2 separate regions of the Homo sapiens genome follow, and region 2 is linked to region 1. Evidence: fine-mapped expression QTL. A gene starts in region 1. The other region holds a variant in brackets. All regions are shown on one strand. Distances are from middle to middle. Region 1 holds the start of MAP3K15 (mitogen-activated protein kinase kinase kinase 15). Region 2 overlaps MAP3K15 (mitogen-activated protein kinase kinase kinase 15).

Region 1 (4,267 bases):
AAGGGCCCCCCGTACACACACACTCCGCCCCAGGGAAAGCAAAAGCCACCGCACACAAATCTTTCAGAGGTGGCACCAGCAGGAAGGAGAGTGTTGTGCCTCATGGCAAAAGGAACATTTAACCGTTCAGAGAAGAGTCTGTTCAAACTCCAATTTTGGAGCAGAATGAATACAAGTTGAGAAAACGGAGTGGTTCTAGGTGAAGTGGACTCCTGAACGACTTTTCTAAAAAGATGTTGTGCTGAAGAGTATACTCAGTGTGGTCAGAAATGTCAGGAGAGTGCTTTCAATGGGTCCAGCTGCCACTTGTTTAAACAAGCCTGACTCCCCCCCTACCCCGCCCTTCCAGCTGGGGAGAATTTGCTCTGCAAGAAAAACAGATCTGCGCTGCCTCCAGCAGAGGCTGAATCCTAATCATCCTAGCTTACTATTACAGCAAAGCAACTTCCCATATCCTATCTCATCAGCTTTTAGGTTTAGGGTAGGCACTGTTAACTCCCTTTGACCAGAAACTGAGGCACAAGGACTCCCAGGTAATTACTGTCTCACATATAATGCTTCTGAACGTCACCCAGGTGACAGAGGTTTGTCACCAAAGGTGCTGTAAGGGAAAAAACGTCAAGCAACAATTCATTCCACACCGAGAGAAACTCTTGCCAATCCAAAGTACGCTTCTTAAGGCTGGATTCTCAGGCACATTTATTATAGTGAGTTTAGAGACCTAGAGTCCCACTCCAGCAAAGGTGCCCCCTAACCCGTGAATGCTGTGCATTATGGGATAAAATATACGTCACAGGGTGGTGGCTCACACTCCACCGTCAGTGTTTTGGGGACGAGAATTGAAGTGTGCAAAAGAACACTGGGTATTTCTAAGTAGAGGCAACACACACACACGTAAGACACCGATTTCCACTCCTGGCTGCAAAATGGAATCGCCTGGGAAGCATGACACTTCTAAGGCCTCGGGTGCTTATGTCATTGGTCTGGGGTCCGATCTGGGCACCCAGAGTTTTAAAAGCTCCCCAGGTGATTCTAATATGTAGCCTGCGTTGGGACCCACGGCCGTAAGAGACCTTCCAGGAATGAGAAAGCAAAAGTTGGATAACTTGGGAGAAGGGGGGCTTGGTAGGGTCTGGGTTACAGGCTGTTTCTTGGGTTATCTGATGTTTAAGATGCCTGAAGAATCAAAGAGTCTAAATGCCCGTGGCCTCTATTTTCTTATCTGTAAAAGGGCACAATGTTAAAGACTCTACCCTCCCCCAAAGGCAGGACGGTCCTGTTGGACGGATCAGGGGGTGAGAGGATAGGAGGGGGGCTAAGGGGAGGGGGATGAGAGGAAGGGGACTAGGGGAAGGGGAGGTGGACTAAGGGGAGGGAGACTAAGGGGAGAGGGGACTAAGGGGAGGGGGGCCTGCGGGAGGGGGGACTGGGGGAGGGGGATAAGGGGAGGGGGATAAGGGGAGGGGGACTAGAGACGAGGGGGACTGGGGGAGGGGAGGGGGACTAGGGGGAGGGGAGGGGGACGAGGGGGAGGGGAGGGGGACGAGGGGGAGGGGAGGGGGACGAGGGGGAGGGGGACGGGGGAGAAGGGCGAGGGGGCGGGGCGGGTGCCCTGGCTCGTGTGAGGGTAGGTGAACTGGGACTGAGGTGGGGACGAAGCCGCTCTCACCTGCGTCGTAGAAGGCGTCGAGCACGGCCGTCTCCCCGAAGTCCAGCTCCCCGAAGGGCACGGAGGTGAGGTGAGCGCCCTCGGCCTCGCAGGCCCGCAGCAGGCACTGCCGCGCCCCAGCCTCCGGGCCGCCGGCCGCGCCGCCCTGGGAGCTCTCACTGCGCACGTATACTGCCCGCAGAGCCCGCCGCGGCCCGCCCCCACTCTCGCCCTCGCCGCTGCCGCCTGCCGCGCCCTCCGCCGCCCCGTCGGGCTCCGCCGGCCCGGCCGCGCCCTCCACCCCCGGCGGCGGCGGGCACTGAGGGGACTCGCTCGCCGCCCCGAGGGCCCCGGCCGGAGCATTCCCACCGCCGCTCTCCATGTGCCCGCCTGCGCGCCCTTCCCCTGGGCGAGTGGCCAGCGGCTGCGATCCGCTAGGAGGCACAAGTTACAGCAGCCGCGCAGGCGGTCCCGGCACCTGCTCCTGAAGCGCGGGACGCTACGGGAATCGAGGGAACGGAGCGCACCGGGGACCCCGCGGCGGGCCGAAGACGGCAGTACCCCTAGGCTGCAGCCTGACGCTCAGGCCCCAAGGCCCCCAGCGCCCTTTGAAGGCCGGAGAGAAAGAGGCGGGGGCTGGGGACGTCAGGGCGAGCGAGGGGCGGGGAGGGGGCCGGGGAGGGCGGCGGGGCAGGAGCGGGGAGGGTGCCCCCTGCTGCCCCCTCCAGGCAGCGCCCGCCCGCAGCCGGGAGACGCCGAACACGGGAACAGGAATTGGGGTTGTTTTTTTTTTTGTTTTGTTTTTTGTTTTTTGTTTTGGCCATCCCTCTAGCCTGACCACCATTAGGAGCTCCAATTTCTTTTTTCTCAAAACAACTTGAAGCATTCGAGCAGGGTAAAAACTCTTTCAAAGCATCGGTTGGATGGAAATGTTCTATTCCCAACTCAATACAGACGTATTAATAGTTTTCACCCGGCATTGGGATGAACGGATGCTTCATCCCTGGTTGCCAAGCGCACGGCCCCCCGTGAGCCCTGTGCCGGAGGCGAGCTCGTCCTGGCTTTCGCCGTGACCTTGACAAGGCACAGGGAGGCACCAGCAACAAATTTTGTCTGGAAGATAGACTCCAAGTACGCTGCCTGCCTGACCTTTGAAAATGCCGTGAACTCAAAGGGGCCCTCACTCGGATCTTAGGCACTTCACGAATTTGGACACAAATATTAAAAGAAAATAGTGTTACCACTGAGGGTAATACCATTATTCTTATTTTTTATCTTTTTTGAGACAAAGTCTGTCGCTATCGCCCAGGCTGGAGTGCAGTGGCGCGATCTCTGCTCTAGGCTCACTACAACCTCTGCTTCTCGGGGCTCAAGCGATCCTCCCACCTCAGCCTTCAGAGTAGCTGGGATTACAGGCACGCACCTCACCATGTCCGGCTAATTTTTTTTTTTTTTTTTTTTTTTTTGTATTTTTAGTAGAGACGGGGTTTCACTATGTTGGCCAGGCTGCTGTCGAATTCCCGAGTTCAAGCGACCCGCCCGCCTCAGCCTCTCCAAGTGCTAGGATTACAGGCGTGAGCCACCGCACCTGGGTCATTGTTTTCTAAAAGATAGAATGCACCGGACGCTGTCACAGACTTGGAGGTTTTTCTTTTTTCAATTGCAATATTATTTTTAAACTTTATTTTTAATTGACAAATAATTGTATATATTTATGGAATACAATCTGTTGTTTTTCATTTAAGTTCAGGGGTATATGTGCAGGTTTGTTACACAGGTAAACTTGTGTCATTGGGGTGTGTTGTATAGATTATTTCATCACCCAGGCATTAAGGCTAGTACCCATTAGTTATTTTTCCTGATCCTCTCCTTCCTCCCACCCTTCACCCTCTGATAGGCCACAGTGTGTGTTGTTCCCCTCCATGTGTCCATGTGTTCTCATCATTTAGCTCCCACTTATGAGTAAGAACATGGGGCATTTGGTTTTCTGTTTCTGCATTTGTTTGCTAAGAATAATGGCCTCCAGCTCCATCCATGTTCCTGCAAAGGACATGATCTCATTCTTTTTTATGGCTGCATAGTATTCCATGGTGTGTATGTACCACATTTTCTTTATTCAATCTACCATTGATGAGCATTTAGATTGATTTCATGTCTTGGCTATTGTGAATAGTGCTGCAATGAACATACACATGTATGTGTCAACAGAGTGAACAAACAACCTACAGAATGGGAGAAAATTTTTGCAAACTATGCATCTGACAAAGGTCTAATATCCAGCATCTATAAATAACTTAAATTTACAAGAAAACAACAAACAGCCCCATTAAAAAGTGGGCAAAGGACATGAACAGACACTCTTCAAAAGAAGACATACATGTGGCCAACAATCATATGAAAGAAAAGCCTCAACATCACTGATCATTAGAGAAATGCAAATCAAAACCACAACTAGATACCATCTCACACCAGTCAGAATGGCTATTATTAAAAAGTCAAAAAATAACAGATGGTGGCGAGGCTGTGGAGGAAAAGAAACATTTATACACTGTTAGTGGGAGTGGAAATTAGTTCAACCATTGTGGAAGACAGTGTGGCAATTCCTCAAAGACCTTATAA
Region 2 (4,267 bases), 23 kb before region 1:
TTGGTGGCATTCAACCAATTTGTGCGTTTAGCTCCAGTTCATACGTTTTCGCTTCTGTATAGAATTCTGTTGTGACAGATTTTTATTCATTTCCTATTTCACACTGCTGCAATAAACAGTCCTGTCATAGCTCCTGGCTCACATGTCTACCATCAACTTAACAACATATAACGTGCCCTGGCTGGGCGCAGTGGCTCATGCCTGTAATCCCAACACTTTAGTTGGCCGAGGTGGGCAGAATGCTTGAGCTCAGCAGTTCAAGACCAGCCTGGACAACATGGCGAAACCCCATCTCTATAAAAAATACAAAAAATTAGCCGGGTGTGGTGGTGCGTGCCTGTAGTCCCAGTTATTCAGGAGGCTAAGGTGGGTGGATGGCTGGAGACTGGGAGGTCGAGGTTGCAGTGAGCTGTGATCATGCCACTGCTCTCCAGCCTAAGTGACAGAGTAAGACCTTGTCTCATAAACTAAAAAAAAAAAAAAAATAAAATGCACCCTGGAGTTGCACCCTGTAATAGAGACCTATTCAAAACAGAGGAGCAACTTATTACATGAATAATGAGCATGTTTAAATTACGCTTAGTAGTATGGGGCACCGTTTTAAAACTCAAAACATTCTAGAGGATGTAAGAGTTCCAAGTTTGATGGGAGCTTCCTTACCATGTGCAGTGGAGATATAGGAATGTAGTGTCCAAACTCATGCTCGCACTGCTGTGACTTCTAGAAAGTCACTCAAAATCCCGATGGGACACAACAGAGGCCAGTTGAACAAGGGCGTGAAGAAACATGAAGGCAGGCAGGCAGCATATCAGCACCAGACACCGCTAGCTCTGTAGAGAGGCGCTGGGAACCTGAGGCCAAGTGCCACTAAGCCCCAGAGTGGGCCCTTTATTCTCTTATTTATGGATTGCCTGCTGTATGGCAGGATTCTGATGGGTGCCAGGGATAGAAGTGTCAACAGGGCATAATCACTTTCCTCAAAAGAAAAAACCAACTACAATACAATGTGGGTAACCAGAAGGAAGGGGATGGTTAGGATCACCATGAGGGCAGCCAAAATAAGGGAAACAGTGAACAGAGCACCCCCAGGAGGGCACATAATCCACACCTGAGCGGAGGGCAATCACAGAATGCCTGGAGGAAGGGATACTGTCCATGACCTGAGGCTCTGTAAGAGTCAGGCAGGCAAATGGGATGAGGATATGGGGGATCAAAGGGAAGGAAAGAGCGGTGCATTAACAGAAGCCAGCTAGTGCAAGGGGCCAGCAGCAAGCCAGGGTGTAAGTGTGAAGGCCACCCACATATCACTTCCTGGGGCCACAATACCCCAGAAAACGAGCCTGGAGGTGGAGGGCTGGACCTTCCTTGAGGCAATGGGAAACCTATGGTTGGGTTTTTTAACTTTTTATTTTTACTTACTTATTTATTTTTGAGACAGAGTCTCAAAAATGCATGGGTACGATCTCGGCTCACTGCAACCTCCACCTCCCAGGCTCAAGCTATTCTTGTGCCTTGGCCTCCAGAGTAGCTGGGACTACAGGCATGTGCCACCATGCCCGGCTAATTTTGTCGTATTTTTAGCAGAGATGGGGTTTCACCACGTTGGCCAGGCTGGTCTCAAACTCCTGACCTCAAGCGATCCGCCCACCTCAGCCTCCCAAAGTGCTGGGATTACAGGCGTTAGCCACTGCACCTGGCTACTTTTTTTTTTTTTTTTAAACAGAGATGGGGTCTCACTCTGTTGCCCAGGGTGGTCTTGAACTCCTGGGCTCAGGCAATCCTCCCACCTCGGCCTCTTAGAGTGCTAGGATTACAGCTGTGAGCCACTGCTCCTGGCCTCTTTAAAACTTTTTATTATGCAGAACTACAAATATACATAAAAAGTAGACAGAATAGTATAATGAAATCTCCATACCTCCCACCTCAACAACGATCAACTCAAGGCCGGCTTTGTTTCATCTTTACTACCATCCGCAACATCCACCCCTCCCTCCCTGTGTTATTTTAAAATAAATCCCACCAGACACCACGTTGTTTTATCCCCCAATATTTCAGGATATATCACTAAAAGATGAGAACTCAAAGAAAAAAATAACCATAGTATCAATGTCTCACCTAAAAATATTTTTAAATAATCAAGAGAGTTTTTTAGCAGGAGACTCTCAGAGTCAAATTTACCCTTTAGAGGTCATCTACTAATGAAAGGATGCACGTCTATACTGAGGAAACACTCTACAACCCAGCCTCATCAATTTCTCTCAAATGGGTAATTCCACTCCCCAAAGACATTTGCTTAGAGTCAAGATAA[T/C]GCGCCACTGCAGCTGAGTAAATTAGACATTCTGCCTATAGGATTGCTTCCTGGACTCTTACTTATCTACATTAAAAATTATATGTTTCAGGCCGGGCGCGGTGGCTCACGCCTGTAATCCCAGCACTTTGGGAGGCGGAGGTGGGTGGATCACCTCAGGTCAGTAGTTTGAGACCAGCCTACCCAACGTGGTGAAATCCCGTCTCTACTAAAAATACAAAAAATTAGCTGGGTGTGGGGTGGGCGCCTGTAATCCCAGCTACTCGGGAGGCTGAGGCAGGAGAATCACTTGAACCTGGGAGGAGGCGGTTGCAGTGAGCCAAGGTTGCACCACTGTACCCCAGCCTGGATGACAAGAGCGAAACTCTGTCTCAAAAGATTTTTTTTAAAATTACATGTTTCATAGTGATGTTATGAAAAAGTAGCAACATAGATATTAATTCCAAGGCCATGGTGACTGTTATAATTAGTTAATAAAGGCAAGGAAGCAAATAGAAACAGACAAAGGGGAATAGCGGAACGGGGCAGAAGGGAGGATAGGGACAGTAGTCCCGAAGTCACACAGCCCATTTTCACAGGCAACCTTGAACGTGGCAGAGGAACTTGTTGCCAAGATTCCATTTTGATCAAGTGACATGAAGTCCTCCCTTCTTTGCCTTCTCAACATTCTGTGCTGGGACCCACCGGCCTACCAAGGATTGGGAGAGACTTTTCACTGTCAATGAAAACAGGACATATTAATACTGCTACTCAAAAAAAAAAAAAAAAAAAATTCTGAGCAATTCATGTTCAATAGGAAAACTGCCTCGAATCTAAAGTTGGAATTTTTGCCTGACATTTGTCACTCAGGCCAGTAGACTAAGTTCACTTTGAGGATTTATACCAAAATAGTATGCAACTGGCTTATTTTCAGAATTCCTAAAACACGAATTTAGCATCTGATTTATAAATTGTTAATTGTAATAAAACACCAGATTGGAACTTTTATTCTATACAAAGAAAAAAGGGCTTTATCCCTAAAGAGAGCACCAGTTACCTAAAACCTTTCATCATCACCGTGGTCACATGCTTTGCCATTTACAAAACACTTCCACAGACTTCTCAGTTGAATTTCAGAACCCCAGCAGGCAGGCAGGGCAAGCACTGGCTTCACTAAGCAGGTAGAAAAATGAAGTGCAAAGAGGTTAACAGACTCGCCCAAGGTCGCTCAAGTACAGCATGAACAAGTCAGGGCTCAAAATCAGCTTTTCCAACCCCAAGTCCTGTGTTCCCCGATGCCCTCATGAGGCTTAGTACATTCCTGACACACTGTGTAAAACTGAGCTACCTGGGGGCAAAACAAATTTATATATCAGGCTAAATCTTAAGCAAAAAGATCACAGATAAAAAGGAAGAGATAAAATTCAGATTTTCATTCCCAAATACACCCTGTGCTCCTAGCAACCATTACCTTTCAGTTCCTACTGACGCAGGCCAGCTTCAGGGAAAAAAAAAACACATATCATATAAACCATCTTTTCTGACCCTGAGGCAGGCACACACACCCACCCTACCTATCTTGGTTTAGCAAACTTTAAGAAGTGATACCAGGCATGGTGGCGTGTGCCTGAAGTCCCAGCTACTCTGGAGGCTGAGGCAAGAGGAGCACTTGAACCTAGAAGTTCAAGTCCAGTCTGGGCAACATAATGAGACTCTGTCTTTTTAAGAGAGAGAGAGAGGAGGAGGGAGAGAGATACTACATCAAGGATTTGCAAAAAGCCAAGGTTCCAGTTGAAATCTATGCTTAGCAGGAAAGTGTAATTTAAAAACCAGTTACAATGACCTCAAGCAGGAGGTCAATTACAAGGACCTTGAAACACGCTAGTGTTAAATAAGAAAGATGATGCATAGGACTTTAGTTCGTTGAAAACTTTTGAACACTATCTTGAATACTATTTTTGCTAAATGTTTTATGGGTAA

The links. PIP is the estimated chance that this variant, and not a neighbour inherited with it, causes the effect. A credible set is the group of variants that fine-mapping cannot tell apart.
Region 2: its variant is the best candidate, but not a certain one, in a credible set for the expression of MAP3K15 in whole blood (TOPMed, PIP 0.77).

Annotation. Positions count from the first base shown.
Region 1 is chrX:19,513,232-19,517,498 of GRCh38, forward strand. It overlaps MAP3K15 (mitogen-activated protein kinase kinase kinase 15), which reads right to left and starts at 2,277. Exons shown (of 29, transcript NM_001001671.4): 1 at 1,670-2,277. The coding sequence starts at 2,030.
Region 2 is chrX:19,490,287-19,494,553 of GRCh38, forward strand. All of the region lies in intron 1 of MAP3K15 (mitogen-activated protein kinase kinase kinase 15), which reads right to left. Among named protein-coding and RNA genes, the nearest start is that of MAP3K15, 23 kb to the right of the region's middle. The variant T/C (reference allele first, on the strand shown) is at 2,309.